2 linked regions of the Homo sapiens genome follow. The protein of the gene in region 1 interacts with the protein of each later gene in a pairwise test. Each region holds a gene or a part of one and is shown in the gene's direction. Other genes may lie near its edges. The genes, in order: BCAT1 and C17orf75.

Region 1 (3,822 bases):
GTATAGTTTTAAAATTATGAAGTTTAAATTGAACCTTAGGAAGTTGCTACTCTGTCACCAGGCTGGAGTGCAGCAGCGTGATCTTGGTTCACCACAATCTCCGCCTCCTGGGTTTAAGCAATTCTCCTGGCTCAGCCTCCCAAGTAGCTGGGACTACAGGCACATGCTACCATGCCTGGCTCATTTTTATATTTTTGGTAGAGATGGGTTTCACCATGTTGTCCAGGCTGGTCTCGAACTCCTGACCTCAAGTGATCCAACAGCCTTGGCCTCCCAACGTGTTGGGATTACAGACGTGAGCCATCACACCCAGCCTTGAAGTTGCCTTTTTTATCTTCAGTAGTGCTTCTTGGCTTAAATTCTTTTGTTTTATAAATAGTAATGGAAGCTTGCCAGTTTTATTTTAGAAAGTATTTGCAGGCCAGGTGCAGTGGCTCATGCCTGTAATCCCAGCACTTTGGGAGGCCGAGGCAGGCACATCACTTGAGCCCAGGAGTTCGAGACCAGCCTAGGCAACATGGCAAAACCTCGTCTCTACAAAAAATACAAAAAATTAACTTGGGCGTGGTGGTGCGCGCCTGTAGTCCCAGCTACTCTGGAGGCTGAGGTGGGAGGATTGCTTGAACCCAGGGGGTAGAGGTTGCAGTGAGCCAAGATCTTGCCACTGAACTTCATTCAGCCTGGGTGACAGAGAAAAACAACTCTGTCTCAAAAAAAAAAAATAAATAATAAAAAATAAAGTATTTGCATGATATATCTTTTTCTGTCTTTTTGATTCAGATATTGTCAGCTGAGTCCAATCTAACAAACTTATATTTTAACCGAAGCTTTAGTACTGTTATATTTAATAAACTAATAATATATTTGCACTTAAATACAACATCTAATTTTATGCTTTTTAATTATACATGATTTGTATTTCTTTTTTTCCCATGTAAGTTTTTAGGGTATACATCTTTAAAGGCCTTACTTTTCATTATCGTTCAGTTTAACTTATTTTCTAATTTCCATTTTTCTTCTGTGACCTATGGTTTAGTTAGTGGTGGATTTATTTTCCAAAATATGGATGGTGTCCAGTCAAACTTTTGGTATTGATTTCTGGCTTATCTTGTGTTTGGAAAATATGTGAATTCTACAGCTGGTCTGTGTAAGAGTTCTCTGTATCAGTTAGGGAAGTTTGTTCTTCCTGTTGTTCATATCTTGCATATCTTTACTAAGGTTTAGCCTGTTTGTTCTATAAATTACTTAGAGAAGCTGTGTTAAATTTTCCCACTAAAATTATTGATTTTTGTCTTTCTCTGTATTTATCAGTATGTATCTACTGAAGTCTTTTCAAATCCCTGATCAGTGGTTTGTTCAGGACAGCACTTTGATTGAGGGAGGTGACGTGGCTTAACATAGTATGGTCTTGAGCTGCCTGGTTTCTGTGATTTAGGGACTGAACCAGCTCTGGTCACATCTGGATTATCTACTATCCAGCATTCAAATGAACCAGATTACATGAAAGGATATGGGGGTACTCTTTGGGGGCCACGGTGCCACAAGGCCTTTGGTTTCGATCTCCATTGCCTAGGGAATTAACCTGTGCTGTGTGATTCTAGATGTTTTCTTCCTGCTCCCTTAAATAACACCTAAATGTGTTATTCAGCAGTGTGGCTCCTGCTAAGCAGAGGAGAACTCGGAATTCCTACCAAATTCTGATAATAAAATAACTTTCCTCCACCTCAACCATTGTTTTTACCAGTCCTGTCAACTGTTAGCTTTCCTGGATTTAATGATCTCAAGTTGAGGTCAATGTCAACAGCTTTATGGGATGAATAAGATGAACGCCCATAGGAAAGTCAGTCTCTTGAACACGGGTTGTTTTCTTTTGGTTACCCTCTAAGATTTTTTCTCTTTGATCTCCAGTTATTTGAAGGATTGAAGGCATTTCGAGGAGTAGATAATAAAATTCGACTGTTTCAGCCAAACCTCAACATGGATAGAATGTATCGCTCTGCTGTGAGGGCAACTCTGCCGGTATGTAAGTGTAGGAGTTTCTTTTGTGTTTCTTTTAATGTAACGGGTCACGGTGTTGACCACCAAATAAATAATTTCTGAATAGTTAGATAAATATTCAGTACAAACCATATGAACATTAACATTATTTCTGATCTACTTTAGTTAGGTAAAAATACAAGAAAATGGCCGGGCACGGTGGTTCACTCCTATAATCCCAGCACTCTGGGAGACTGAGGTGGGTGGATCACTTGAAACCAGGAATTGGAGACAAGCCTGGCCAACATGGTGAAACACCATCTCTGCAAAAAATACAAAAATTAGCCGGGTTTGGTGGCACATGCCTGTGGTCCCATCGGTGTGGCTGAGGCATGAGAATTGCTTGAACCTGGCAGGTGGAGGCTGCAGTGAGCCAAGATAATCACATCACTGCCCTCCAGCCTAAGCCGCAAAGTGAGACTCTGTAAAAAAAAAAAACAAAAAACAAAAAACCCAAGAAAATAATATCATTTGGCAATTCCACAATTTTTTAAAATCAGTGTCTGTGGGGGATTCATATGCAAGTGAGAGATGAAAGAGTAAGGAAGAAAAATGTATCTCAACCTAAAATAATATTTGAAGACCACATGAAATTAATATTGAAAATGGAAAATATGGTGTGCAGCACAGGTATTTTGCGGATATTTTGCCTAATTGCTTTAGATGCTAGCAAGATATAGTAACTTAATTATTTTGATATTTTATCTTAAGTAATGTTTTGAGATAAAAAGATATCAAAATGGTTTCTCATGGCCATTGAATCGTGGCTGTCACAATGTTTCTTATGGAGCAGAAATCATTGTAAGATGGGTTAGATTTTTTTTTTGAGAGAGAGTCTCACTCTGTCACCCAAGCTATAGTGCAGTGGCACAATCTTGGCTCACTACAACCTCCACCTCCGGGGTTCAAGTGATTCTTGTGCCTCAGCCTCCTTAGTATCTGGGATTACAAGTGCACGCAGCCATGCCCAGCTTAATTTTTTTAAAAATTATTTTTAGTGGAGACATGATTTCACCATGTTAGCCAGGCTGGACTTGAACTTCTGGCCTCAAGTGATCTGCCTGCCTCAGCCTCCCAAAGTTCTGGGATTACAGGCATGAGCCACCGTGCCCAGCTTCAGGGATTTAGCCCAACCTATGCATTCAGGAAGCCTGAGGACGGCTAAATCCAAGTGTTCTTCATTCCTCTGCCTATTTTTGTAACCCGCATTTCACCCATCTCCTTTGGAGGCCATAATATAGTAGCAGAGGGGAAATTAAGGTAAATTCTTTGGACTAGGGCATAGTTTCGCTCTTCTTCTCATTACAGCTAGATCACTGGGGAAAAGTCTTTAAAATGGGGCTGGAAGGAAAGGGAAGTAATATTTGTTAGACATCAATTTTGCTACCAAACTGTGTTATGTAGTTTCACATTCCTTATCTGTGTAATCACAGCAGTAAGGCGTTGCTAAGAAGATTATTTGTTGTACAGTTTATTAGTGCCTTTGTACAGAGAAGAAAACTTGAGTCCAGAGAGATTAAATGACTTGTCTGAAGTCACAAAGAGCAAAAGGACAGGGCAAGAAATTAGATCCAGGTGTTTTTATTCCTGGTCAAGTTCTCTTCTCACTGAATTCTGTCTCTAGACAGCAATACCAGGGGCTGAGGCAGGTGCTACAGGGTTCACCTATATGATTGGCAGTCCCAATTTCTATAACATTACTACATTATTATTGCTGTTACAGGTCAATATTTAAATAGACAAATTCTGACTTCATGAGCTTTACTCAGATGCTTATGACTGACT
Region 2 (3,822 bases), on another chromosome or scaffold:
GGAACCCTATTCAGTCTCTTCATTTTATAGAATGCATTTCTTGGTGTGTTTTAAATAAATTCAGTACAGATTTAACCCTCACCCTGCCCAACAAGCCAGGAAAGGTATATCACAATTTCTTTTTTTGAATTGGTGGTGTTAGCTTTAAAAAGGGAGGTGTCTATCCTGGTCTTTTTCACCATCAAGGATATGATGAAGAAAATATGAAGTCCACTAAAGGAAAGGCTTATATTAAAGCAAATGATGTTCTTTCTTGATTTAGGCAAGGGGCCTGGAGAGTCACATAAAATCCTATCTGAGCAGCTGGTTTGAGGATGTTGTATGCCCAATCCAAAGGGTTGTTCTTCTCTTTCAGGAAAAGCTTACCTTTCTGCTACATGCTGTAAGTACTGCCAAATGAGAGCATTTCCTTAACTGAGAATCACTTTGGATGATTTAGAAACATACTCATTTTCTCTGAACATGACTCCCATCCCTCCCCAAATATTCAAACTATGCTTGCTATCAAGATAGACCACACTTTATTTTCTCAGATCTAGAAAGTGATATTACTAAGGTAGAGTTGAATTTCAAATGCTGAGTCTTCCTAATAGGATAAAACATTTTAAAATAATTACTTTTCCAAGTGATCTGGGAAAGGTATAGTTTCCAAAACAATTTGAAAAGGAAAACAAAAATCCAGAGCAATTTTGATTCTATAAAATGTTAATGAGCAGTGGCTGAACAAGGCTCTGGAGAGCTTGTGACCAGTGCCCATCAATTGTTGTCCAGTGTGGTAGGGACTTATGGGGACATTTAGTCATGAGTAGCTGCTCAAGAAAAACTGGAATATATGTACCAATCAGGCTTTATTTTTCTCTCATAGGCTTTGAGTTACACTCCTGTTGAAGTTAAAGAATCAGATGAAAAAACAAAGAGAGACATTAACAGGTAAAGAACAGTTTTTTCAAAGAGAAAAGCTTTTCCACAGCAAGATTGACATCTGTGTTTGTAAACTGCTCCTTCCATCCCTTCCCCACCAGCCCAGTGCAAAATAAATTTGTTTTCATCCTTCCGTCCTGCAATATTGTTTGTGGAAATGGACTTGTGTGTGTGGCAGGTTTCTGAGTGTGGCCAGTCTTCAAGGACTTATTCATGAAGGCACCATGACTTCTTTGTGCATGGCCATGACAGAGGAGCAGCATAAGTCTGTGGTCATCGATTGCAGCAGCTCCCAGCCTCAGTTCTGCAATGCAGGTGAGCTACAACCTCTGAAGCAGCCTTCCTACATCTCTTGCGAGTCCCCATCTTTGCACTGAGAGCCTATGATACAACCTTATTCTTCCTGCCTTGTGCAGTTTTACATGGTTATCTCAAACCATGAGAAACCACTTGGTGAAAACAATATAATTCTAGAAACATGGAAATCATGCCATGCCTAGCAATTCCACACCTAGGTACATAAAGAAATTCTAGTATGTGTACACAAGGAGATGAATTTTAAAATGTCCATAAAGGCATTACTTGAAAAAGCAAGGAATTGGAAGCAATTTAAGTGTTTATCAACAAGAAAACTGATAAGCTGCTATATTCATGCAATGGAATATAACAGAGCAGTGAAAAAGAATGAACTAGAGCTACTTGTGTCAATATAGCTCTCAAACATACTATTTAGTGAAATAGCCATAAAAGAAAAAATACATAAAAGTTTTAACATATGCAGAATAATGTAGATAAGGCTTACACGTGCAAAGGTATATGGGAAAAGTTTAAAGACGTCTGTGGGAATGATTATCCTCTCTGATGGGAAAGGAAGGGGGATGTGATTGGGAAGGGGCATACAGGGGGCTTCAGCCATTTTGGTATTCCTTAGCCATGTGGTGAGCACACTGTTTTTTTAGGCCATTATACATGTCTTAAATAATTCATTATAGGTGTTTTTATAAAGAAATAAATGGGTCAGGCGCAGTGGCTCACACATGTAATCCCAGCACTTTGGGAGGCTGAGGCAGGTGGATCATCTGAGGTCAGGAGTTTGAGACCAGCCTGGCCAATATGGTGAAACCCCATCTCTACTAACGATATAGTTAGTACTCCGGCTGCACTCCAGCCGGGCAACAAGAGCGAATCTCCCGTCTCAAATAAATAAATAAATAAAGCTTTGTAAAATTTCATTTTATTTAGTCTCTCTGAAATGTTTTATAGGAAGTAACCGGTTTTGTGAGGATTGGATGCAAGCTTTTTTAAATGGTGCCAAAGGAGGTAACCCTTTTCTTTTCCGACAAGTACTGGAGAACTTTAAACTAAAGGTAATTAGTTGGCTGTGTGCCAAGTGCCACATGAAATTTTTGTCTGAATTTTAATTAGTACCAGTGACAGAGTAACAAATTGCTTTATAGCTGTGATGTCTGTTAATTAGGATGTTCTCAAAACTGGAATTATCAGAAGACATTTACTTTATTTTTTGGCAGCTTCTGTATACATATCATTTCTAATAAATTGGGTTGAATGCTTGCTTATATTTAAGGAACATCAGTCTTACAATTTGTGACTTAACTTAGTTGGAAAGCACAAAAAAACTGGTTCAGTGGCTAAGTTTTCAAAATTCTGATGGGGGCTGGGCGCAGTGGCTCACCCCTGTAATCCCAGCACTTTGGGAGACCATGGCAGGTGGATTGCTTGAGGCCAGGAGTTCAAGACCAGCCTGGCCAACATGGCAAAACCCTTTCTCTACTAAAATTATAAAAATTAGCTGGGCCTGGTGGCGCATGCCTGTAATCCTGGCTATGTCAGGTGGCTGAGGCACGAAAATTGCTTGAACCCAGGAGGCAGAGGTTGCAGTGAGCCCAGATTGTGCCACTGCACTCCGACCTAGGTGACAGAGTGAGACTCTGTCTAAAAAAAAAAAATTCTGATGGGGACGTGTTGTCACCTTATTTAGTTTTGTTTGTTTGTTTTAAGAGACAGAATCTTACTCTGTCACTCAGGCTAGAGTGCAGTGGTGCAATCATGGCTTACTGCAGCCTTAACCTCCTGGGTTCAAGCAGTCTTCCTGTCTCAGCCTCCTGAGTAGCTGGAACTACAGGTGTGCACCACCACACTCAGCTAATTATTTTTATTTTTTGTAGAGACGGGGTCTTGCTGTGTTGCCCAGGCTAGTCTCAAACTACCGGCCCTTAGGCAATCCTTTTGCCTGGGGCTCCCAAAGTGTTGGGATTACAGACATGAGCCACCATGCTAGGTAGATTATTTTAAAGTATTTTTATTTTGTATAAGAGATTTTTGGCTGCGCGTGGTGGCTCACGCCTGTAATTCCAACACTTTGGGAGGCTGAGGCGGGTGGATCACTTGAGGTCAGAAGTTCGAGACCAGCCTGACCAACATGGTGAAACCCCGTCTCTACTGAAAATACAAAATTAGCCTGGTGTGGTGGCACACACCTGTAGTCCCAGGTACTTGGGAGGCTGAGGCAGGAGAATCACTTGAACCCAGGAGGCAGAGTTTGTGGTGAACCGAGATCAAGCCATTGCGCTTCAGCCTGGGCAACAAGAGCGAAACAAGAAAAAAAAGGAGATTTTCTTCTTCTACCAAGGGCAAAGCATACTGCAATTTAAATTTTGGAAATATTTAATATGAAAAGCAAACAATTCAGGAAGATATGTTGAGTTCTCAGCTGGATAGGAGTTATTTTTTGAGCTTCATTATTATTTCACTTAACACATTTTTAACTGGGTAATCATTTTCTAGGCCATACAAGACACAAACAATTTGAAGAGATTTATCCGACAGGCAGAAATGAATCATTATGCTTTGTTTAAATGTTACATGTTCCTAAAGAACTGT

The links.
Region 2: the proteins of BCAT1 (region 1) and C17orf75 interact in a two-hybrid assay, tested with the Homo sapiens proteins (one large-scale study listed by BioGRID).

Annotation. Positions count from the first base shown.
Region 1 is NC_000012.12:24,879,498-24,883,319, reverse strand, and holds part of BCAT1 (branched-chain-amino-acid aminotransferase, cytosolic), read left to right. Parts: intron 1-1,908; coding exon 1,909-2,019; intron 2,020-3,822.
Region 2 is NC_000017.11:32,331,883-32,335,704, reverse strand, and holds part of C17orf75 (protein Njmu-R1), read left to right. Parts: intron 1-262; coding exon 263-382; intron 383-865; coding exon 866-930; intron 931-1,099; coding exon 1,100-1,236; intron 1,237-2,184; coding exon 2,185-2,288; intron 2,289-3,726; coding exon 3,727-3,822. UniProt on the Homo sapiens protein: As component of the WDR11 complex acts together with TBC1D23 to facilitate the golgin-mediated capture of vesicles generated using AP-1. May have a role in spermatogenesis.